Linked DNA regions of Homo sapiens: region 1 is reported to be linked to region 2. The links are microRNA targets in miRTarBase. Many come from high-throughput screens and were not tested one by one. Region 2 holds a microRNA gene; the other region holds the end of a gene's coding sequence.

The links. The annotated mature microRNA hsa-miR-4750-3p reads CCUGACCCACCCCCUCCCGCAG and lies in region 2 at 7,450-7,471, opposite strand. An mRNA with a match to its seed (bases 2 to 7 or 8) in the 3' UTR can be bound and repressed. Matches are read on the target gene's strand: a 7mer-m8 pairs with bases 2 to 8, a 7mer-A1 pairs with bases 2 to 7 and ends in A, and an 8mer does both.
Region 1: miRTarBase lists FAM83G as a target of hsa-miR-4750-3p. Seed matches in the 3' UTR shown: 7mer-m8 at 5,607-5,613 and 7mer-m8 at 5,000-5,006.

Annotation. Positions count from the first base shown.
Region 1 is chr17:18,965,394-18,972,393 of GRCh38, forward strand. FAM83G (family with sequence similarity 83 member G) reads right to left here. Exons shown (of 6, transcript NM_001039999.3): 6 at 3,396-6,355. The coding sequence ends at 5,966. It overlaps SLC5A10 (solute carrier family 5 member 10), which reads left to right. Exons shown (of 15, transcript NM_001042450.4): 6 at 3,659-3,764; 7 at 3,949-4,029; 8 at 5,620-5,825. Among named protein-coding and RNA genes, the nearest start is that of SLC5A10, 17 kb to the left of the region's middle. RefSeq lists enhancers at 2,541-3,484, 5,371-6,312.
Region 2 is chr19:49,879,947-49,895,679 of GRCh38, reverse strand. It overlaps MIR4750 (microRNA 4750), which reads right to left and starts at 7,505; the gene lies at 7,450-7,505. TBC1D17 (TBC1 domain family member 17) reads right to left here. Exons shown (of 17, transcript NM_024682.3): 4 at 15,278-15,401; 5 at 14,205-14,412; 6 at 13,528-13,639; 7 at 13,280-13,438; 8 at 12,788-12,916; 9 at 12,604-12,707; 10 at 11,935-12,029; 11 at 11,311-11,427; 12 at 11,121-11,221; 13 at 10,922-11,021; 14 at 8,107-8,204; 15 at 7,846-7,962; 16 at 7,363-7,449; 17 at 6,930-7,256. The coding sequence ends at 7,056. It overlaps IL4I1 (interleukin 4 induced 1), which reads left to right. Exons shown (of 8, transcript NM_152899.2): 4 at 500-612; 5 at 1,211-1,412; 6 at 4,207-4,275; 7 at 4,573-4,709; 8 at 5,080-6,026. The coding sequence ends at 6,010. LOC124904743 (a long non-coding RNA gene) reads left to right here and starts at 8,204. Exons shown (of 4, transcript XR_007067293.1): 1 at 8,204-8,486; 2 at 8,917-9,234; 3 at 10,794-12,111; 4 at 13,506-13,590. RefSeq lists enhancers at 258-307, 3,598-4,264, 4,265-4,933, 4,934-5,601 and silencers at 4,969-5,158, 5,389-5,558.

The sequences.
Region 1 (7,000 bases), not on the chromosome of region 2:
AGCCCACCCAGCTTCTCTGCTGTCCCACGAAGGATGGGAGATATAAGTTCCATGTGGGAAGGTGGCTGAGAGCGGGCAGGGCAAGGGCCCAGGCCGGGCAGCCAGAGTACCAGGGCCGGTTCCCAGCCTCCTTCAGCCTCAGACACGCCCTGGAGTGAATGGTTTCCATCGGCTGGGAGATGGAGTGAGGCTCCTTCATATACGTGGGGAGCTTGGGGGTCTAAGCTGTGCAGAGCCCGCCAGATCAGTCCCACGCTGCACCACAGGGCCCACACGTCCTCTCTCAGCCTTGCTCCCTCCCTGTGTACTGGGCTCCCGCCCTTGCAAGCCCCCAGTGGTGGCTACATGGTGCCAGGAGAGGAGTGGCTTGCTGCCAACAGTGTGTGCTCTCTGGGAGGTCCCCTGCCATGAGTTTCCTCCCCAGGACCTCACAGGCCCCAGGGTCAGCCAGCAGGAAGGGCACGTCCTTGGGGCCCACCTCTTAGGACGGTGGGACTTTGACAAAGTCATTTCACTTCTCCATGCCCAGGTGCCCCCCACTGTGGAGTGGAGTGGATTACCACACCCACCTGGTAGGATGCTATGAGCAGCACTGGGGGAGACCTGAAAGACATCAGGGCGCCGTGTGGCACACACGCACATTTGTCACCTGTCAAAAGTGGCAAGTCAGCAGGGAGTCCTGGAGGACAACCAGGGCCGTGAAGCACTGGCAGGGTTTCTGGGTACAAGATGAAGGGAGGAATCGTGGGGGTCCTGCATGGGGAGGAAGGAGCAGGGTAGTGGAAAGGACAGTTTGTGCAGGGTGAATGTGGGGCCACATCACAGGAGCAGGCAGGCACCTCTGGACAGCAGCCTGGATCAGGCTGCTGAGCTGGGGGTGGACCAGTTGCTCCGGCCCCATGGGTGGCAGCCTGGAGTGAGGTCCTGGTTCAGCCTGTGCCCTGGGAGTGGCCCTTCCTCGGGGATGCTGTTCCCTGGTGCAGTCTTGTTGATTTTGTTCCCAGAGTTTTGCCTCCATGGGCAAGTTCCTCTGCAATTTGGGCCTTGACCTCCCCATCTGTGCCTTCTAGGAGTTGGAATAGACTCTGGGCCGGGTGCGGTGGCTCACGCCTGTAATCCCAACACTTTGGGAGGCCGAGGTGGGTGGATCACCTGAGGTCAGGAGTTTGAGACCAGCCTGGCCAACATGGTGAAACCATGTACAAAATTAGCCGGGCTTGATGGCACACACCTGTAATCCCAGCTACTCAGGAGGCTGAGGCAGGAGAATCACTTGAACCCGGGAGGTGGAAGTTGCAGTGAGCCGAGATCGCACCACTGCACTCCAGCCTGGGTGACAGAGCAAGACTCCGTCTCAAAAAAAAAAAAAAAAACAACACTCTGCGGTTGCTCCTGGGTCACTGGGGAGGGAGGCACAGAGGAGAGCTGGCTATCTCAGACAGTCCCACGGAGCATCCCGTGCCAGGGTGAGGGGGTAGAGGGGCTGCAGGGTGCCGGCAGGGTGGAGGGGCTGGGTGGCTGGCTTTGTGTGCTCCACACCCACTTCCCCATGGCACAGATCAGGGGCACTGAGGTTCAGGGGATGAAGTGGCCTGCTCAAAGCCATGTGGCTGGGACATGGCAGACCAGGGGCACAGAGCCAGGGCTGTGTGGCTCTTGGCATCTGTCAGGCTGAAGCTGCCCCGGCCCACAGAGGAGTGCTCGGGCTGCAGGAAGGGTCGGATAGGGCTAAGTGATGTCTGAATTCCTCACCCGGGGGCTGCTCGGGAGTTGCAGGCAACCGCACACCTACTGGGCCTCTAGCAACAGCAGCAAACGTTCACTGGATGCCATGTAGTGTCCAGTCTATAGGGGAGACAGCAGTGAAAGGCCCACCCCACACCCTTGCTCCTGCCGTTCCTGCACCTGCGGGACTTCTATTCAGTCTTTGGGGCCTGCCACCGTGGAAGGAAGGGCAGGAAGGAGGGAGGCAGGAGGGAGGGCGAATGAACAATGTACTCGAGGAGCAGAGGGGCTGGCACGGCTGTGTTTTGAAACATGAGAAGCAGAGGCTGGGATGTTCCAGGGCAGAGGGAATCTGGTGAGCCGGTGAGCAAAGACTCAGAGGCAGCTAAGTGCTGGGCATGGGATGAAGGGCCATGTGTCTGGCGTGGCCAGAGCCAAAGACCGGGCACACAGACCCAGGTTCTGTCCAGAGACAGCCAGGGTCCAGCAGGAGTCTGGAGCAGTGACTGTAGGACAGAAGCTTGCAGGCTGCCTGTGGTGGGCCTTCTAGAAGCCTCCTGCTCCCTCTCGGCCTTCCCTCTCCTGGTAACTCCAATCTCTGATACCTACCAGGGGCTGACTTTGGGGAAGTCCTTTCCCTTCCTGGGGCCTCAGTTTATCCTCTAGTCTGATGGGGCAGGACTTGAAGAGTCCATCCTGCTCTGATATTCAGCACCTCTGCGCTTCTCTACTTGGGCTGGAGGCAGATCCCGCCCCCACCCCCCACCACACCTTCCCCTGAACTACCTGCCCTTCCTATACACACACACACACAGCCAAAGATAAGGACCAGAGCCGGGGTTCTCCTGAAAGCCCCTGGCTAGTTTCCAAACTGGCTGGTCTCTCTAAGACAGGTTGAGAGAGGCGCCTGGAGGGAGAGGTACAGGAAGCACAGGCTTTGGAGCCAGATCCCATCCTGCCTGGGCCCTGTGTCAGACCCCAGGAGGCAGGGATCCCTGCCTGGGGGAGCTCAAAGGGGCCTGGGGCCTGCACTTCCTGGGCCTCGTGCAGATGTGTCCCCACACTAGGAAGCACAGGGCCCCAGCCTTCTCAGGAAGCTCCTGGCCCCTGAGGCTGTGTGTTGGGTCATCTCGCATCTCCTGAGTCAAAGCAGAATGGTAGGTTTAGGAACTCAGGGGTGGGGCAAGGTGAAGCCTGTTACTAGCCCATGTCCCAGAGAACAGGGTCCTGCCCTTCCTCTCACTGGGCCCCTACTGCCAGGTGGAGGGTGGGATTCTGGTCTTTGAGGCCCATGCCAGGCAGAGGTTGGCCTCCAGGCTAGCGCTCCTGCCTTTAGGAGGAGCAGCCACAGGTTCTGGGAGGGCAGGGGCTGTGTCCAGTCAGTGTGGAGACCAGCTTCAGCCTGAGACCCAGCCTCTGAGCCACTATTGGCTTCAGTTCCAAACCCACTGGGGGGTGGGGGCAGGAAGCAAGGCTGCCCCTCTGTTTCCTGGTCCGCCCAGCACACACTTTTCCTGAGGCCTACTGGTCCGCCCAGCACACACTTTTCCTGAGGCCTACTGGTCTTCACAGACTCCTCACAAACTCATCAAGGTGCCCCTGGGAACCGAGGGGACAGGGCTCTGCCTTTTATCCCCTCGGGAAGGGGCCAGATTCAATAACAACACTGCTTTTGGGAAAGGCATTGGCCACTTTGGACTTTATTAGCAACAGTAATGTCCCCTGACATCCGCACAAGCTTGTAGCTCCACGGCCAGGTCTTCCCCCAACCTCACAATGGCCCCGTGATGCAGGCAGGCAGGCGAGTGGGGGTCTCCCCTCCTTATCCACAGGCCACCGAGGCCCAGAGAGGGCCTTGCCCGAGGTCACCCAGGGAGTGGCTTGCTGGAGCCCTGGGAATAACAGTCCCACACAAGGCTCTCTCCCTCCGCAGCTGGACCTGTACGCGGGGGCTCTGTTTGTGCACATCTGCCTGGGCTGGAACTTCTACCTCTCCACCATCCTCACGCTCGGCATCACAGCCCTGTACACCATCGCAGGTATGGTGCCTGCAGCAGGGAGGTCCACCCAGGGGACGTGTAAAGGGGTCAGAAGGCCACCTCCCCCTACAGGCCCGAGGGAGCAGCCCAGGAAGTGGCCCCAGCAGGAGCCCCAGAAGTTCCTCCCCGTGTCCCTCCTCCCTGGGGCCAGGGCCCCCTCCAGCAACCTTGCTTCCACTGGCAGGGGGCCTGGCTGCTGTAATCTACACGGACGCCCTGCAGACGCTCATCATGGTGGTGGGGGCTGTCATCCTGACAATCAAAGGTGAGGACAGAGTCTGTGGCCATGGCGGGGCTGTCCCCACAGCGAGCCCTTTGGAGTCTGGCACTGCCCGGCACTGTGCAGGATTCATGCCGTTGGGGTTCTGGGTAGCATCGCTGGGAGTGGGTGGGTTCAGGAGGTTGAGCCACTAGGCAGTCAGCCCCCCTGCTGGCCCCTCAGGGACTGCCCTGGCTGGTAGAGGCTACCCACCCTGCTGCCCCGCTGTTACCAGCTCTGGCCCTGGCAAGGAGCTGACTCAGGAACTCAGGGCCAGCCACACCCGCATTGGCTCAGCGCTTGATGGTGAGGTGGGGCTGTAGGCGGGTGTGAAGGCACACAACCAGGAGGCCATAAAACTGCCTGGGCAGCTCCTCCAATTGTTTAAAAGCATGTACAAAATGCCAAGAGGTGATGCTACCTCCTGCAGGACAAAGGCCAGGGAGGAAAGAAGAGAGCTGGGAGAGATTGGCGATACTAGTCTGGAACAGATAGGAAACTCACAGGGCTGCCCGGAGAGAGCGTGAGCTCACCGTCCCTGGAAGTATGTAAGCAGAGCCAGGAGGATCCCTCAGAGAGTGAACAAATCTCTAAAGACTCTTCCAGACTCAGACACTGGGACCCTGTGGCTGAGCAGTTTCTAACCCTTGAATGGCACTTGTTCATTTGCTCTGAGCCTCACACAAACCCTCGGTCTGAATACAGAGCCTGACCTGAGCTCCATGGGAACAGTGATGCTGGGGAGACCAGCATCCAGGCAGCAGGCTGCCTCTTCCATGTCCCACTTGGAAAAGGCTAGGGAGTAGGGCCTGGGGTGGAAACGGGTTTTCCTACATCCAGGCTTCTCCCTCTCAGACCAGGGGCTCTAGTGTCCCTGGGACCCACCGCATGAGAGGGATCCCAGCAGCCAGGCCCAGTCTGGAAGGGAGGGGAGTGACACAGACACAGATGGGCCAGGGCTTGGCCATGCCGGGCCCTGACCCCGAGGTAGACAGGAACAGTGAGGTGTTTTGGACTGGAGAGGAAAAAGCCCCGGCTTGAGCCCGCCAGATGGTCTATATGGTCTTGGTGGAGGCCCCATCCCTCTCTGGACCTGTCTCCCTCTTCTCTGTGCCTCAGGGGGTGGGGCCACATCACCACCAGCCACTCTCAGCTCTGCTAAAATCACACCCTTCAGGTGATCAGGATGAACACTTTAGAAGCCTCAGGAAGGTCCTCAAATGTCAAGAAAAATTACTTTTGCTTCCTTGAATCGACAATCGGAAACCTGGCTGAGAACCACTTGCCCAAGGCCGATGAGTGTCCAGAGGCCAACAGTGACTCCTGCTGGGCCAGCGGGACACTGGGGTGCCCATGTGCAAAATGCTTACTTAATAGTATTATTTTAAATACGAATAAAATAGTCATTCAAATACACCTTAAAAAAAAAAACAACCCTCTACCCTCACACCTTTCCAAACACTGGGAAAGATGAGGTGGAAAAAACTCAAGTTTGATGCATCAGGAAGTTTCTTGTGAGATGAAGGCAGGGGGGAGCCCAGGGAGTCAGGGCCCCGCAACCACCAAACTGTCCCTGTTCCACCCTGACCCCTCCAGCTTTTGACCAGATCGGTGGTTACGGGCAGCTGGAGGCAGCCTACGCCCAGGCCATTCCCTCCAGGACCATTGCCAACACCACCTGCCACCTGCCACGTACAGACGCCATGCACATGTTTCGAGACCCCCACACAGGGGACCTGCCGTGGACCGGGATGACCTTTGGCCTGACCATCATGGCCACCTGGTACTGGTGCACCGACCAGGTGAGTGCCAACGTCTCCCGCCCATCCCACCTTCCTGCCGTCCCAGTGGGCTCTGGTAGGCCCAGGCGGCCTGTCTGCCCTCCGCGTCATGAGTCTGGGCTGGGGCCTCAGAAGGTGTGGCTCCAGGCTGGGACATGCTGCTAGGGGTCTTTGCGGTCCCGGGGGGCTTGAGCCCTCCGTTTAGAATCCGATGAGGCCCACTGGCTACCGCCCGTCCTGGCCTTTAGGTGCTTCGACTGAGACAGTTTGGAGTATGGGATTCCGAAGGGACTCGGATGCTCCTCGGTGGCCCTGCCATCGGTCATGGGGCGGGCATTTTGGGCCAGTCTTGGGCTGCCGGGATCCGGAAGCAGGCGGGGTACCTGACCTCCCTTGGCCTGCCAGTGGTGGGGGCCAGCCATGGCTGGGCCAGCGTTTCTGGTAGAGCTCTGGACGCTGTCAGCAGCAGAGCGGTACCTAGGGGGTCCTGGGAAGCCGTCTTTATCCCTAGTCCCTGAGGCAGGGACCCTGTGATGATGAAACTGCTGGCCCTGGGAGAGAGAGAGCAGAGAGTGAGGCTGAGCAAGAAGGGCCAACCCCGCCCCAGCACAGGACCCTGCTCAGGCACACAGGAGCCGGCAGGCCCGGGTTCGCCTCCTGGCTCTGCCATTCACCAGGGAGTGGGCCTAGACCAGTTGGTTTAGTCACTCGATGCCTCAGTTCCCCTGTCTGTAATATGGGAATAATCCTGCCCTTTGTGGGTGTAGCAAGGCAGCTTCCTCCCAGCTCACCCCCGCAGCCTCCTCTATTCCGACACAGGCCTGGGACGTGGTTGGAAATGGGCTGAATGGGGTTGTTGGAGGCAATGCAGGAGTTTCTGTTGAGTGCAGGGGGTGACTCTGGCCCTGCCCTCAAGACCCTGTCACCAGCCCTCCAGGTGACCTCAGATGAGCTGCTTCCTGTCTCTGGGCAGAAGCAGATGGTGCCCTTGCTTTGCTTGTCCCAAAGGCCGTGGGCAGCTCCAGGGAGCATGGGGGTGGGAAAAGGCCTGTGAAGCAGTGGGCACAGGCCCCACAATTGTCCATGCCTCTGGACCCAGCCCCAGGGGTCCACCATAGGACAAGGCAGCCACAGCCAGCCTCTGTGGAATGAACGATCACAGCGCTCACACAAGCCTTTCCCACGTGGCCTACCCT
Region 2 (15,733 bases):
AGTCTGGGGGTGAGGCCCAAGCCCCCTGCTGTCACATGTCTCCACTGAGAGGCCCCAGACTTTCCTGTCCCACGTTTTTCATCCCAGAGGGAAGTCTCACTGGCTCAAAGCTCCTCTGTCCTGGGGTGGGGCGCCTGTTGGTGGAGAGGGAAACTCTACCAAGGGGATGTGTGCCCTGAGGTCTAACCACTGACCTACTCACTGCAATCCGAGAATGAGAATGGGCCAGCCCAGGGGCTTCTACGCATATGGGTCATCTCCGAACTCCCCGAGCTGGGAAGTCCCTTTGCAGTCTAGCTGGCAGCCTTCCTCCTGCAGTCTGGAACTGCTCACTCAGTTCTGTTCCCCCACCTCCATACAGAAGGGGACCCTCTCCTAGTCTGGGTCTGGGCCACTGTGGGGATGGAAGAAGGCAGGGGGCTGGCACGGGGTGGTAGAGGGCAGGGGATGGTCAGTGGGTGGAGCTGAAGGGCCCTCCTCGCCCCACGGACTCCCTCAGGTCACCATCCTGGAGGCAGATAACAGGATCGGGGGCCGCATCTTCACCTACCGGGACCAGAACACGGGCTGGATTGGGGAGCTGGGAGCCATGCGCATGCCCAGCTCTCACAGGTGACCTAGCAACCCACCCACCTGTGTGCCTAGACTCAACTAGCCCCCCAGCTCCATGCCCACACCAGAGTGGGCCCGAACTTCCACTCTGACTCCCAAACCCAGCCTCCAACCCCATCCTTCGCCTAATCCTCACCTCAGTCTTGCCTCCAGCGCCAGCCCTGGGCCTCTGGCAACACTCGGGCCACCTGGTCCAACCAGACCTCCAGCTGGCCCTGCCTGGTGCAAAAGCCAGCTCCTGTGCTGGCCCCTCCAGGCCTGCAGCTCCACCATCCCCACACCCTCAGGCACCCCAGCCCCAGGCCCCTTCTTCATCTCAAACCCCCGTCCAACCCAAACTCTGTCCCCCTTCCCAATTCTAATCTGGGCTCTATCCCACTCTTAACCCAATCCTAATCCTGGTACTGCCCTGAGGCCTCCAGCCTTGTCCCCATTTCATTCCCATCCCCCAGCATTGATTACCCCAAATCTAGCCCCACCCCCAGCCTCATGCTGGTCCCCAGCTACTCTCCCCTCCCACCCCTCTTCTCCAAGTCCCACTAGGGACCAGGCCACCCCCACTGGAGCCCGGCCCTCACTCACCCACTCCCCTGATCAGGATCCTCCACAAGCTCTGCCAGGGCCTGGGGCTCAACCTGACCAAGTTCACCCAGTACGACAAGAACACGTGGACGGAGGTGCACGAAGTGAAGCTGCGCAACTATGTGGTGGAGAAGGTGCCCGAGAAGCTGGGCTACGCCTTGCGTCCCCAGGAAAAGGGCCACTCGCCCGAAGACATCTACCAGATGGCTCTCAACCAGGTGGGTACCGCCTGCACCCTCCTCCCGCCCTGACTTCTCTGTCCTCCTCCTAAGCTCGCCCCGGCCCGGCTTTTCTTCTCTCTGGCATCCCTTCAGTCCCCTCCATGGGGTGGGGCGCCTGTTGGTGGAGATGGAAATTCTACCAAGGGGATGTGTGCCATGAGGTCTAACCACTGACCTACTCACTGAAATCCGAGAATGAGAATGGGCCAGCCCAGGGGCTTCTACACATATGGGTCATCTCTCAACTCCCTTCTTTTTTTTTTTTTTTTTTTTTTTTTTGAGATGGAGTCTTACTCTGTCACCCAGGCTGGAGTGCAATGGCGCCATTTCAGCTCACTGCAACCTCCGCCTCCCAGGTTCAAGCAATTCTCTGCCTCAGCCTCCCGAGTAGCTGGGATTACAGGCGCCCGCCACCACGCCCAGCTAATTTTTGTATTTTTAATAGAGACGGGGTTTCACCATCTTGGCCAGGCTGATCTTGAACTCCTGACCTCGTGATCCACCTGCCTCAGCCTCCCAAAGTGCTGGGATTACAGGCGTGAGCCACTGCCCCCGGCCCCAACTCCCTTCTTTAGCTTCCCCGTAAACACTGCTGACCCCAAAGCTGCATCAGCTTTTGGCCTCTTCCCCTTTCACCCACACACTGTCCTGGATAACCTCCCCAGTCTCCACCTCTGGCTTAAACATAGATCCATGGGCTGATGGAGACATCTGCCTCCCGAGACCCTGATCTGTGTCCCTCCCCAGGACACTGGGCTCAGAAGCTTCCCCTAAACCTGTTCCTCCTCCCGGTGCCCCCATCTCACGATGGCCCCACCATCCCGCAGTCACGGGCAGACCCCTAGGAGCCATCCTCCTCCTGACCTCCTCCTCGCCCACCTCCCCCACCATCAGTGCCCACCCCTGCCGCCTGACGCTTGTGCCCTGCTCCCCTCTGCCTGCCCCAGCTCAGGCCTCCTCCTCTGCCCTGGACCCTCCCCCAGCCTCCTCTCAAGCTGCCCAGGCTCTAGTCTCCCCAGCCTGGTACCAGAAACGTCTTCCCACACACCCAGAGTGATGCTGCTCACAGCCCCCAGTGGCTCCCCGCTGCCTCCAGGACAAAGTCTGATCTTTTCAGGCTCAGCTTTGAGCCCTGACTGGCCTTCCCTTCTGCACCCCTCCAGCCTCATGCTCTTTTCTCCTCTAAGAAATTTTTGTCCTCATGGTGGTCCACATGCCCCCAGCTCTGTGTTCCTCACACCCACTATACCTGTGTATCACCCTCCCTTTCCAGAATGCCTTTCCCTTCCCCACACAGGAACTCCTGCTCAGCCCTCAAGAACTAGCTCCAATGTCCCCTCCTCCAGGAAGCCTTCCCTGATACCTTTAGGGAGGAACTGGCCACACCCAACATCCCCTCCCCACCCAGGTCAGAGCCCACTTGCCCATCTCCCCTTCTAGACCAGGATGGGGGCCATGTCCAGGTCATTTCTATGCCTTGACACTGACTGGTTTGGGAGTCTGAGAGATGCGAGATGCATGAGTGAGTGAAGGGGCACTGCCTTCCCTCTGAGGTCCTGGCCAGAAGGGGGAAGCCAGGTGGACCAAGAAGAAGGCTGAAATTAGATGGGGGCAGCAAGGCTTCTGGGAGGGGGTGAGATTCGAACAAAGTGCTGAAGAACACGCACTCATGTGCCACGCAAAGACAGGCAGGGAAACAATAGGTGCCAGATGTGTAGGTGGGAGAGCCCTGAGGGCAGGTGGTCTGGGCACTGTACACTGTTCACAGAACCAGAGCTGCCATAAAAGACATGGACTGAGGTAAGTGGGGATCTTGGTTCTGCTGAGATTCAGGGCAAAGAGAGTGACCATGAGGCCTTCCCCAGAGAGTCAGAAGGCGGGTACCTGGCACGCAGTGGCTCACGCCTGTAATCCCAGCACTTTGGGAGGCCGAGGCAGGCAGATCACTTGAGGTCAGGAGTTCGAGACCAGCCTGACCAACATGATGAAACCCTGTCTCTACTAAAAATGCAAAAATGAGCCAGGTGTGGTGGCAGGCGCCTGTAATCCCAGCTACTTGGGAGGGTGAGGTGGGAGAATCACTTGAACCTGGGAGGCAGAGGTTTCAGTGAGCTGAGATGGCGCCACTGCACTCCAGCCTGGGCAACAGAGCGACACTCCATCTCAAAAAAAAAAAAAAAAAAAAAAGACATTGAGGGGCTAGCAGGGGCCTTGAACATGAGGCTGAGGGGCAAGAATTCTGTGGCTCCAGGCACTGGGGAGCTACAGGAGGGCTGTGGGCAGGGGACGGACGGTAGATAAACTTCTCAGCCATCATGCCCTGTCAGCACTGACCAGTGGCACAGGGGACCAGCTTCTGTCCGTGGCCACAGTGATTCAGGCAACAAATAATCACTGAGCCCCCGGGAGGACACAGCACGCCTGGGACCCTCTCCCAGTCTCCTCTCCAGCTGCCCACATCCCTGCCTCCATGGAGCTCACAGTCTGGCTGGCTGGCTGAAAAATAGGCAAAATAACACGCAACCGGGATGAGCTGTGACCAGCCGGGCCAGCCGAATGAGGGGGGATGGGCGGCGTTAACAGTTCGGTAATATCGGAGGAGCAGTGGCATCTGAGTTGCCGTGGAGGGCAAGGCGGAGGGCATGGTGTGGGCAAAAGCCCAGGGGCTTGAGAGTGGTGAATGGCCAGCCGTGGGCAGAACCACGAGGAGAAGCCGAGTGTGGGCTCCAGGCCCGGCCTCCACCCTGGCTGCCCGGGCAGCTCAGCACCATGTCTGCTTCTTCCACAACAGGCCCTCAAAGACCTCAAGGCACTGGGCTGCAGAAAGGCGATGAAGAAGTTTGAAAGGCACACGCTCTTGGTAAGTGGGGATCTTGGTTCTGCTGAGATGCAGGGCAAAGAGAGTGACCATGAGGCCTTCCCCAGAGAGTCAGAAGGCGGGTACCTGGCACCCTAGTCCTGCCACCGCCTTCCTGCCTGACCCGGGGGCTGGACACGCCCCCTGTCTGGACCTCCGTTTCCCTCATCTGTCAGAGAGTGGGGACAGGATCCTACGGTCCAAGGACATGTCATGGGACCAGGAGGCCCAGCTGCGGAGGGGCTCTCTCAGGGGTGCAGCCTGCCTGGGCCCTAACCTCGGCCTGTGCCCAACCTGCAGGAATATCTTCTCGGGGAGGGGAACCTGAGCCGGCCGGCCGTGCAGCTTCTGGGAGACGTGATGTCCGAGGATGGCTTCTTCTATCTCAGCTTCGCCGAGGCCCTCCGGGCCCACAGCTGCCTCAGCGACAGACTCCAGTAAGGGGCGGGGCTGGCGGGCAGGGGGGGGGGGCGGGGGGCAATCAGGGAAAGTAGCAGGGAGTGGGAGGAGCCTCTGGGTCTGGGGGCGGGGCTGTTGTGAAGGGCGTGGCCTAATTGATGGTCGCGGGGCTAAGGGTTCCCAGATAAAGGACACGGCCTAGGGGAGAAGTGGTGGGGTCCCTGGTGACACAATCCACTACTCCTGCGGCCTTTGGGATGTCAGGGACGGGCGGGGTCGGGAGAGGTGGATGACGGGGGAGCGGGCCGGTGCCCATAAGGGCCAGCTGCCGGGGTGGGTGGGGCAAGGCAGAGGGGCAGGGCCGCAGAGCCCAGGTCACGCCCCCACCCCGCCCCGCCCCGCCTGCAGGTACAGCCGCATCGTGGGTGGCTGGGACCTGCTGCCGCGCGCGCTGCTGAGCTCGCTGTCCGGGCTTGTGCTGTTGAACGCGCCCGTGGTGGCGATGACCCAGGGACCGCACGATGTGCACGTGCAGATCGAGACCTCTCCCCCGGCGCGGAATCTGAAGGTGCTGAAGGCCGACGTGGTGCTGCTGACGGCGAGCGGACCGGCGGTGAAGCGCATCACCTTCTCGCCGCCGCTGCCCCGCCACATGCAGGAGGCGCTGCGGAGGCTGCACTACGTGCCGGCCACCAAGGTGTTCCTAAGCTTCCGCAGGCCCTTCTGGCGCGAGGAGCACATTGAAGGCGGCCACTCAAACACCGATCGCCCGTCGCGCATGATTTTCTACCCGCCGCCGCGCGAGGGCGCGCTGCTGCTGGCCTCGTACACGTGGTCGGACGCGGCGGCAGCGTTCGCCGGCTTGAGCCGGGAAGAGGCGTTGCGCTTGGCGCTCGACGACGTGGCGGCATTGCACGGGCCTGTCGTGCGCCAGCTCTGGGACGGCACCGGCGTCGTCAAGCGTTGGGCGGAGGACCAGCACAGCCAGGGTGGCTTTGTGGTACAGCCGCCGGCGCTCTGGCAAACCGAAAAGGATGACTGGACGGTCCCTTATGGCCGCATCTACTTTGCCGGCGAGCACACCGCCTACCCGCACGGCTGGGTGGAGACGGCGGTCAAGTCGGCGCTGCGCGCCGCCATCAAGATCAACAGCCGGAAGGGGCCTGCATCGGACACGGCCAGCCCCGAGGGGCACGCATCTGACATGGAGGGGCAGGGGCATGTGCATGGGGTGGCCAGCAGCCCCTCGCATGACCTGGCAAAGGAAGAAGGCAGCCACCCTCCAGTCCAAGGCCAGTTATCTCTCCAAAACACGACCCACACGAGGACCTCGCATTAAAGTATTTTCGGAAAAAGCCGTGTGGTCCAGCCTCCCCCGTGGCTCAGTTACTTCCCCAGTTTGCCTGCATCGGAACCACTAGCCCTGCAGTTAGCAGGCGCCACGCCCATCCTGGAGCCCCCCCAAAAATCTGCCCCTCACTTCTTCCTGGACAGTGGGGCTCCAGAGGAGGGTGGGGGGTGGTGCGCACAGAGGGAACCGGAAGGACGCCCTGCACCACCGGGAAATGGCAATCACAGCGACCACCTCTGTCACGAGGCTGAAGTCCAGATGGGCCCTAATGCAAGTAACAGAAAGCCCAGCTGACAGTGGCTGAACAGGAGGTGATTTTTCTCACAAGCAGCAGCTGGGAGGGCAGGCTCCCCAGAGTGCATCTCTGCAGGCCCTTCCACCTTGGTTATGTCCGGGAAGTGTTCCCACACAGCTACCAGGTCGCCGCCACAGCCCAGAGCACCCTATCCTCTTCCAAAAACCCCAAATCAGGCCGGGCGCGGTGGCTCACGCCTGTAATACCAGCACTTTGGGAGGCCAAGGCAGGCAGATCACCTGAGGTCGGGAGTTCAAGACCAGCCTGGGCAACATGGTGGAACCCCATCTCTACCAAAATTACAAAAATCAGCCGGGTGTGGTGGCACACGCCTGTAGTCCCAGCTACTCAGGAGGCTGAGGCAGGGTAATTGCTTGAACCCGGGAGGCGGAGGCTGCAGTTAGCCGAGATCTGCCACTGCACTCCAGCCTGGGCGACAGAGCAAGACTCCATCTCATAAAACAAACAAACAAAAAAACAAATCAGGCAACTCAGGAAGCCCTGCCTCCACAAACCCCAATCATTCACCCTAGGCTCTGCCCAGCCACCATCCCCTCCTCAACCAGGTCAGAGCCCACTTGGCAGCCTTCCCCCCACCAACAAGAAGCCAACTGCACATGAGAAGTGTCAGTTTAATGAAGCCAGCTTATCAGCAGGGCGGCGGAGCACACCTGCCCCCTCGCAGGTGTGCCTGGCTCGGGCTAAAGTGCCTGTGCAGAACGAGGCTGCCTGGCGGGGTTAGGAGTCGGCGCCCTCGTCCTCCTCCTCGGGCAGGATCTCCAGGCTGCTGTCGGGCTGCGGGGCTGTGTCCGTGGAGGGCGGCGGGGTGGGCGGGGCCCGGGTGGGCGACAGAGGCAGCGGGGAGGCGGTGGGCGAGGGGCTGTGGGGCTCTGCGGGCGGGGCCAGCCCCAGGATCTCCTGCACGTTGTGGGGCAGCTCCTGGAGGCACGGGATGAGAGAAGCGAAAAGCGGAAGGTGAAGGTGAGAAGGGGGCGGGGGTCGGTCGGGGTTCGGGCGGGGCGCTGCGGGGCGGACGGGGACTCACGGGGCAGGCGGTTAGCTGGCGGTGCAGGGCCTCGGCGCGGGTCAGCACGTCCTCCACGCTCAGCTTCATAGTCAGCTCGTTGATGTGCTGCGGGAGGGGGTGGGTCAGGCGCCAGTCGGCACTCAACCACCTCCGCCCGAGCGCCCACTCTGTGCTTCGTGCTGGGAAACAATGAAGACACACCGGGCTGGCCCTCTGGGGGCTCAGAAGTGCGCTGGGCGAGACATGCTTCTCAGGCCTCCGGGAGCATTCTGAGCACGTACTCGGGGAGGGAAGGTCCCCACCCACCTGCCCGGAGGACCTTGCTGGGAGCAGGCATGGCATGGGGCAGAAGGGAAACCTACGCGGCCCCACCCCCACTGCGCTCCCAACTAACCAGGCTTTCAATAATCCCACACTAAACACCTGCTCCCCGGAGGTACTGCGGCCCTGGGCAGCGCCCAGCTCAGGGGGGACAGGGCGGGGGCGGGGCCGGAGCCTCACCTTGAGGATCTCATTGGAGCCGAAGCCGGACAGCATGAGGGTGTCCCTCTCCATGTCCAGGATGGCGCAGGCCACCAGCAGGTGCAGATTGGGGCCAGGGAGCCCTGTCCACAGCACCTGAGGGTGCGGGACAGAGGGAGGGAGGGAGGTCATAGCCCAGCCTGGGCCTGAGGTCCCACCAGGGTCTGTCCCTCTCCGCCCAACCTCCCAGGGCAGGTGAGCCCACCCCTTCAGGCCTCTCGCCCAAACTGGCTGGCCCACCTCCCACAGCCGAAGGACATCCGGGAAGGGGAATTCCCTCTTGAACCAGATGAGCAGCCACCGGAAACAGAAGCAGAGAGAGCCGGAGTCCTGGGAATCTGGGGGATGACATGGAGCCCACTCAGCCTTGCCCAGCGCTGGGACTGAGAGTTTGAGAAGTCATCCTGACTGGAAGACCTTCCCCAAGTCTAGGCAAGTGACTTATGCCTGGCTGGGGAACCTCGGAGGTGAGGCAGGAGCAGCCCTGAACGCGGGCCCTGCCCCTCCTTCCTCCCACTCTCCAGAGGAAGTGTGCTATTATACTTCCACATCTGCCATGGACATGGAAGGGAGGCAGGACGCCCAGCACGCCCGACGAAACAGACCTCTGCCCGCTGCTGGTGAGCGCTAAGGGAACTGACACTCCTAGATACGCTGTAGCAAAAATTTAAGCTGAAGGCCGGGTGCGATGGCGCACGCCTGTAACCCCAGCACTTTGGGAGGGTGAGGCGGGTGGATCACCTGAGGTCAGGAGTTCGAGACCAGCCAGGCCAACATGGTAAAACCCCATCTCTACTAAAAATACAGCCTGGCCAACGTGGTGAAACCCCATCTCTACTAAAAATACAAAAATTAGCTGGGATGGTGCCACACCCCTGTAATTCCAGCTCCTTGGGAGGCTGAGGCAGGAGAATCGCTTGAACCCGGGAGGTGGAGGTTGTAGTGAGCCGAGATCACACCACTGCACTCCAGCCTGGGTAACAGAGCGAGACTCCATCTCAAAAAGAAAAAAAAAATTAAGCTGGTGTTGAACCTTTTTTTCCCCCCAAGTTAACTCAAATGAAAGTGAGAGTCTGAGCATTCTAACCTTTGAGGAAAGTAACAACGGAGGACAAACTCTCCAAAGCTGTGTGAAAACAAGCACTGTCCTGAACAAAATTCCACTTCTTGGAAGTGAACCTAAAGAAGAAATTACCCAGACTATGCACCGTGATGAAAAACTGCAAAGGACCCGAATCTCCAGCAGGTCAAGTTACATCAAATCTACCACATCTTGCAGGTGGACACAATGCCGCGCAGTCAAGAAAAGTGATGTTTCAGAAGACTTTGAATGACCCAGAGGCAGCCTCTGTCCTTGTGCCCTAGGAGGTGATGCTTTTCTATGGCTTAGTTTCCTCATCAGTAAGGTGAGGACAGAGTATCTCAGCTCCCTCCCCCGGGGGTCCTAAAGCATCGAGGAAATGTTCATGAATAAGTTTAACTTATTATCATCACCATCTGCACTCAAGAAAAACAATGATATCAAACAGCAACTTTAACTTTCTTTTTTCTTTTTTTTTGAGACAAAGTCTCGCTCTGTCGCCCAGGCTGGAATGCAGTGGTGCAACCTTGGCTCAAGTGATTCTCCTGTCTCAGCCTCCTGAGTAGCTGGGATTACAGGTGCTCGCCACCACCCCCGGCTAATTTTTGTATTTTTAGTAGAGACGGGGTTTCACCATGTTGGCCAGGCTGGTCTCGAACTCCTGACCTCAGGTGATCTGCCTATCTTGGCCTCCCAAAGTGCTGGATTACAGGCGTGAGCCACCACACCCGACCTTTTTTTTTTTTTTTTTTTTTTTTGAGGCAAGGTCTCACTCTGTTGCCCAGGCTGGAGTGCAATGGCACAATCTCTGCTCACTGCTACCTCCCCCACTCCAGTTCGAGTGATTCTTGTGCCTCAGCCGATCCCAACAGCTGGGATTACAGGTGGGCGCCACCACGGCTGGCTAATTTTTTTGTATTTTTAGTAGAAACAGAGTTTTGCTATGTTGCCCAGCCTGGTCTGGAACTCCTGGCCTCAAGTGATCCACCTGCCTGGCCTCCCAAAGTGCTGGGATTACAGGCGTGATCCCAGGATGACATTGCGCCCAGGCTAATTTTTAAATCTTTTTGTAGTCTCCCAATTTTTTTTGGTCTCCCAGTGTTGCCCAGGCTGGTCTCAAACTCCTTGGCTCACGTGATCCTCCCACCTTGGCCTCCCAAAGCACTGGGATTACAACCATGAACCACCACACCCAGCCTTACTTTTTCTTCTTCATCTTAATTTCCTGCAGTTTTTACATTGACCAAGTAATAAAGAATATATTTTTTTTTTTTTTTTTTTTTGAGATGGAGTTTCTTTCGCTCTTGTTGCCCAGGCTGAAGTGCCATGGTGTGATCTTGGCTCACTGCAGCCTCCACCTCCCAGGTTCAAGCGATTCTCCTGCCTCAGCCTCCTGAGTAGCTGGGATCACAGGCGTGTGCCACCAGGCCCAGCTAATTTTGTATTTTTAGTAGAGACAGTTTCTCCATGTTGGTCAGGCTGGTCTTGAACTCCTGACCTCAAGTGATCCGCCCGCCTTGGCCTCCCAAAGTGCTGGGATTACAGGTGTGAGCCACTGTGCCTGGTCGAAGAATAAAAATGTTAAAGCTGGGATGCAGCACCCCCAGCCCCAGGGCCCAGAGAACCAGTCTCTGATTCCTGGTTCAAGGTGAGCCACAGCCAGGTGGGGATAAGAAGTGGCAGGAATGCCTAGGTCCTTATTTCTGAAAAATACCCTGCAGGTTAAGCCAAAGGCAAAGCCCAAACAGGATCTAGGTGAGCATGAGGACGGGGTGAGTCAGCATTCCTGCGTGTCTGCATTTGGTGAAGTTTTGCTTCAAACAGCAATTCTGCCTCTACATTCTAGGTTGTGTGGGGATGTTTCTCTTGTTTGGATCAGGACCCAATGTCCAGGATGCCACTGTGGCTGCTACCAGAGAATCTGGCAAGGTCTATGGCCCCATTGTCTCCTGCCCACCCTCCCGAGAGACATACCCAGGAAGTCGCAGAGCAGGGGGTCCAGCACCCTCAGGAGCAGCAGCAGTCGCCCGAGTTGCCGCTTCATGGTCTCCTGGCTCTCTTCAAAGTTCCCTTGCTGTGGGACGGAAGGAGGGGGGAAAGAGCAGACCCCGTGAGGTACCAGGACACCTGATCGCTCGATAGGCCTGTGTCCCACCCCTGACCCAAGCCTCACCACGAGCTCCATGAAGCCACAGAAACACCAGAAAGCATCCACCTCGTTCTGAATGACGTAGAGGATCGGGGAGAGAAGATCACTCATGCCCTGGACGTAGCCTGGGGGGACATGGGGTCAGGCTGCAGCCAAGCCCGCAGCGCTCCCCTGGACAGCCCCGGCCACGCCCGTCCCCAGGCCTGGCACCCACCGAGGTCGAAGTGATACATGCAGTAGGTGAGGAGGATATCGTTCAGCAGGCCCAGCCCCGGGTTCTCGGGACCCTCGTAGAACTTGTTGGTCCTGTCAGTGCGGCTCACATCCCTTTCTGCGGGGACCGGGCACAGGGTGCAAAGGTGAGAAAGGTAGGGGGGCCCATCCCTGCTGGCCACCAGTGCCAGCCCCCACTGCTCCTCCTGCTGGCAGCCCCCAGCCTCGGGGTTTGCTCTGGGGGAGAAGCAGAGCTGGTTCTAGAAACTATCACTGATGCTCCTGCTGTGAGGCGCCAGGCCTCCCACTCACCAGCTGGCTATATCCTCCCACAGTAGGGGAAACTGAGGCCCAGGGAGGCAAAATCACTTGCCAAGATCACCAGGCATTGACAGAACTGAGACTGGGCCTGAAGGGAGCTGGGCTCCCCTTCTTTCCCATCCTGTCCCTGGCCTTGCTCCCCCAGGGCCATTCCCCAACAGCCCATGCAGCTTTCCCCCAAGATGCCCTCTCACTGGTCTTGGGGAGGCAGGGGGCTCCCTCTATCTCCCACTCGCACTTATGCCTGAGGCCCTCCTGTGGTTCCCTGCTCCCATCCACCCTAAGTGCCACCCCTGACACTGACCGATGAGGCTGCGGTATCCATGCAGAAGTGAGTTTCTCCGCTCCTGCTCAGGGCTCACAGATTTCCACTGCAGCTTCATGCGGAAATACTCATCCCTGAGTGACAGAGGGAAACAAGATGTGAGGCCGCCACTGTCTGCAACACCCAGAGACCTCCAAGCCTGGCGCCACCTCCCAGGTCAGCCCTGCAGAGCCCCTCCCTGACCACACAGACCCAAGCAGGTCACCTCGTCATTCTTGCCACTATCCCTTACACTTCACCTTCCTGGCATCTCTCACTACATAGCCTTGTGGCCTTTTGATGAAAATTTGTCACCCCCCACTGGACAGGGCACCAGGGACAGGGAATCGTCCAGCACTGCTGCATCCTCAGTGCCTGGCAGGTATATAACCTACACCAGGAATGAGGAGAGACGGGCCCTCCTAGGTTATAAAACATGCTGCAAAACTGTGATCATTAAAACAGTATGGCACAGGAATGAAAACTGCAATGGAGACAGACCATACAGGGGTGAGGATGGGTCTGGCTTGATCATTGCCGTATTCCACAGGCGCAGGATGGTGCCCAGATACAGCAGGTTCACAACCAGCGTCCACAGAACTTGCCCATTGGTGCCCTAGGAGGTACCAGGTGTCATGCCTGGCAGGGCAGGGCCTCCTGAGAACTCACGTTTTCTTGCGTATGTGGGCCTTGTGCTCCTCAGCTGTGCCTTCCCAGCTGAGGTACCCTAGGAGGAACTTCCAGGCCTCGCGCCGCAGGCTGGGGCTCAGACCCTGGGGGTGCAGGAGGGCAGGCAGCTCAGTGGGGCCTTGTTCTGGCCCTGCCCCATTCTTCCACCTGTCCTGGCACTCACCCCCGAGAAGATCCGGTTCTTCAGCTCAGGGACCTGCTGCAGGCGACCTTCAGGGCCCACGTGGCGTGCCCACTCCTCCTCTGTAACTGGAGGGCCCCGCTCCACGGTTGGCCGAGGCCCCAGCTCCACCTGCAGGCAAAGAGCAAATGAGCCTGGGGCTCGGCGGGGTGGTGGGGGGACCCAACCCAGCCTCAGTCCACAAGCTCAGAGAGCTTATTAGCTTGACGGATGACTAACATTCAGGGGCAGGCAGCAGCCTCTTCCGGGGCTCAGCAGCCAAGTCATCCCCCAGTTAGGAGGGGTCCCCCAATAAGGGTGAGCAGGTGCTCACAGTGTCTGGCAGAGCCATGAGCGCTTTCCTCATGCACCCCCTGAGGGTGTCCCATTACCATCCCCGTTTTACCAAAGAGGAAACTGAGGCCCAGGGAAATGAAATCATGCGCCCAGGGAGACACGGCCAGAAATAACAGGGAGGGTCCACTCACTACTCACACAGGAAATGACCTCGAATCCAGGCTCGGGCTCATCGTCGGGTGGCGGGGGAAGGTCGGAGGCGGCTCCCTCAGGCTGTGGCTGCAGGGCACCCCGGAAGAAGTTGGTCACTCGGGAGAAGCTGCTGAAGGTGGTGGAGTAGGGATCCTGGAGGAAGCGCTGGGGACGAGGCCAAAGGGAGGTCACGGCCCGCCCCTTCTCGTCCCTCCCTGCCCACACCCGCCAGGCCTCCTGCTGGGGACACTCACTGACACCACATTGGAGCTGTCCTGGTCAAAGAGCTGCAGGTGGTGGAAGGAGTTGGAGAGAGCAGAGGAGTCGTGGGGGAAGACAAGGTAGAGGCGGGAGTCCTGCGGGGAGCTGGGAGGCGGGAGGTGACGCACAGGTGATGCACAGGTAGGGGCCCAGTGTCCCAGGCTGTCTGTGCTCGGCCGACATCGGTTCCAGCTGCAGCGTCCCAACCACCCCTGGGCAACCCCTCATTTCAGGGAATGCTGTTAAAGGAGGCCCACAGCTGGATCCCAGGGGTGGGCACATGACTCGGGGCTGGCCAATGAGGGCCTTTCACCTTCCGGTCCAGTGTGACTGACTCAGGGACGAGCCAATGAGAAGCAGCTCTGGGATCTTGTTGGAACGTGGGGAAAGAGGTGCCTTCTATCCAGCCGGGTTGTTAAGCCACGGATACTGGGGCCCCAGAGAATAACGAACTCAGAGGGAAAAAGGATAACTGTTTCTAACATTTTGGGACCTGGGTCCTGCCTGAAATCAATACTCCTTTTTGACTTTTTAGTTATATGTGCTGGTCAACTCTTTGCCTGCCTTTAAATCAGTGTGAGTTGTGTTTCTTTCACAGCCCCGAGGGGTCACGCTGCAGCCATGGTGGGACTGGGCCCGGTTTAAGGCCCAGCACTGGGAGAGAGCTCACCTGGCCAACAGCAGGTAGCGGCTGAGGACGCGGAGCAGGGCGCGGGTGCCCCCGCGGTGGAAGTGCAGTGCGGGCAGGGAACCTCCAGCCTGGGTCACCAGAACCAGGTAGGCCCAGCTGAGGCCTGGCTTGGAGCGGCGGATGGACTTTAGCTCCCCCAGACTCACTGAGAAGGCCCAGGAGCCCTGGGGGCAGCTGGGCTCTGCACCTAGGGAGACGGCACTGTGTTGGGGGAAGCGCGTGGGAAGCCAGAGTCAGCCTTATCAACCACAACCCAGGATGTTCCTTCGGCACAGGCATCTCCTGAGGGCCCCGCCACAAGCCACCCCTCTGCCCCTGGCCTCACATTCCTTGGAAGCACAAATGAGTAAGATGGGAAGGGGGCCCAGTGGACATGTACCTTTCCAGAACCTTCCTAGGCACCCCTCGACCTGCAGGGTAAGGGCCCTATTCCTCAACCTGGCACTCGAGGCCCCTCGGGTCTGTCCTTCGCCCCTGCCTATCTTACCTCCAACCTTTCTTCACTCAAAATCCCACACTTGAGCTACAATGAAAGGCCAGCGGCTCCCTAAACACACGGGGGCCGCCTGCCTCTGGCTTGCACGGGCTGCTCTCTCTGCCAGAAGAGAAAACTCCCAAGAGTCCCTCAGTGCCAAGCTCCAGCATCACCTCTTCCTGGAAGGAATCTCCATTCCCCAGAGGGGTCACGTGCCTTCTCTGGATGTCCCCTGCACCCTGTGTGACCCCAGGATGGTGCAAATCACCCTAACTGGCTGCATCTGTCACCCCACCAGCCTCGAACCTCAGGGGCAGGCCTGGTGTGGGAGCACCCACAGCCAATCCGGGAGCCCAGTAGGATGAGCAAGGCTGCAGTCTCAGAGACACTGGCCATGTTGACCTGGGCTGGGACAGTCCTGTCTTCCCATTCACTTCCATGCTCCTGGGACTGGAAGGTGGTGACTGGTGGCCTTCTTGATTGTGGGCAGCAAAGCCCTTGGGACCGTGACCACTGAGGGCAAGATGTGTCCTACCTGGCCCACACGTGCTTCTCAAGGGCCGCCACCTCAGCCTACCTCTCGTGGGCTCTGAGTGGCAGAGCTGTGGCCGCACAGTGCTGATGACAGCCCAGTCAGGTTCATAGCCGGGGTCAAAGGTTGGTTCCTCCTCAGAAGCACATGAGTCACCCCCACTGGAGTCCTTAGGAGAGGAAAGGAGCAGACAGTAAGGGGCCATGGATTCAGATCTTAGCCTCGAGGCTACCCTGGAAGATAGCCCCATTGAATAAAGAGGGAAACTGAGGCACAAAGAAGGTACAGCAGGCCGGGTGCGGTGGCTCACGCCTGTAATCCCAGCACTTTGGGAGGCTGAGGCGGGCGGATCACCTGAGGTCGGGAGTTCGAGACCAGCCTGACCAATATGGAGAAACCTCGTTTCTACTAAAAAAATACAAAAAAATTAGCCAGGCATGGTGGCGCATGCCTGTAATCCCAGCTACTCGGGAGGGTGAGAAAGGAAAATCGCTTGAACCT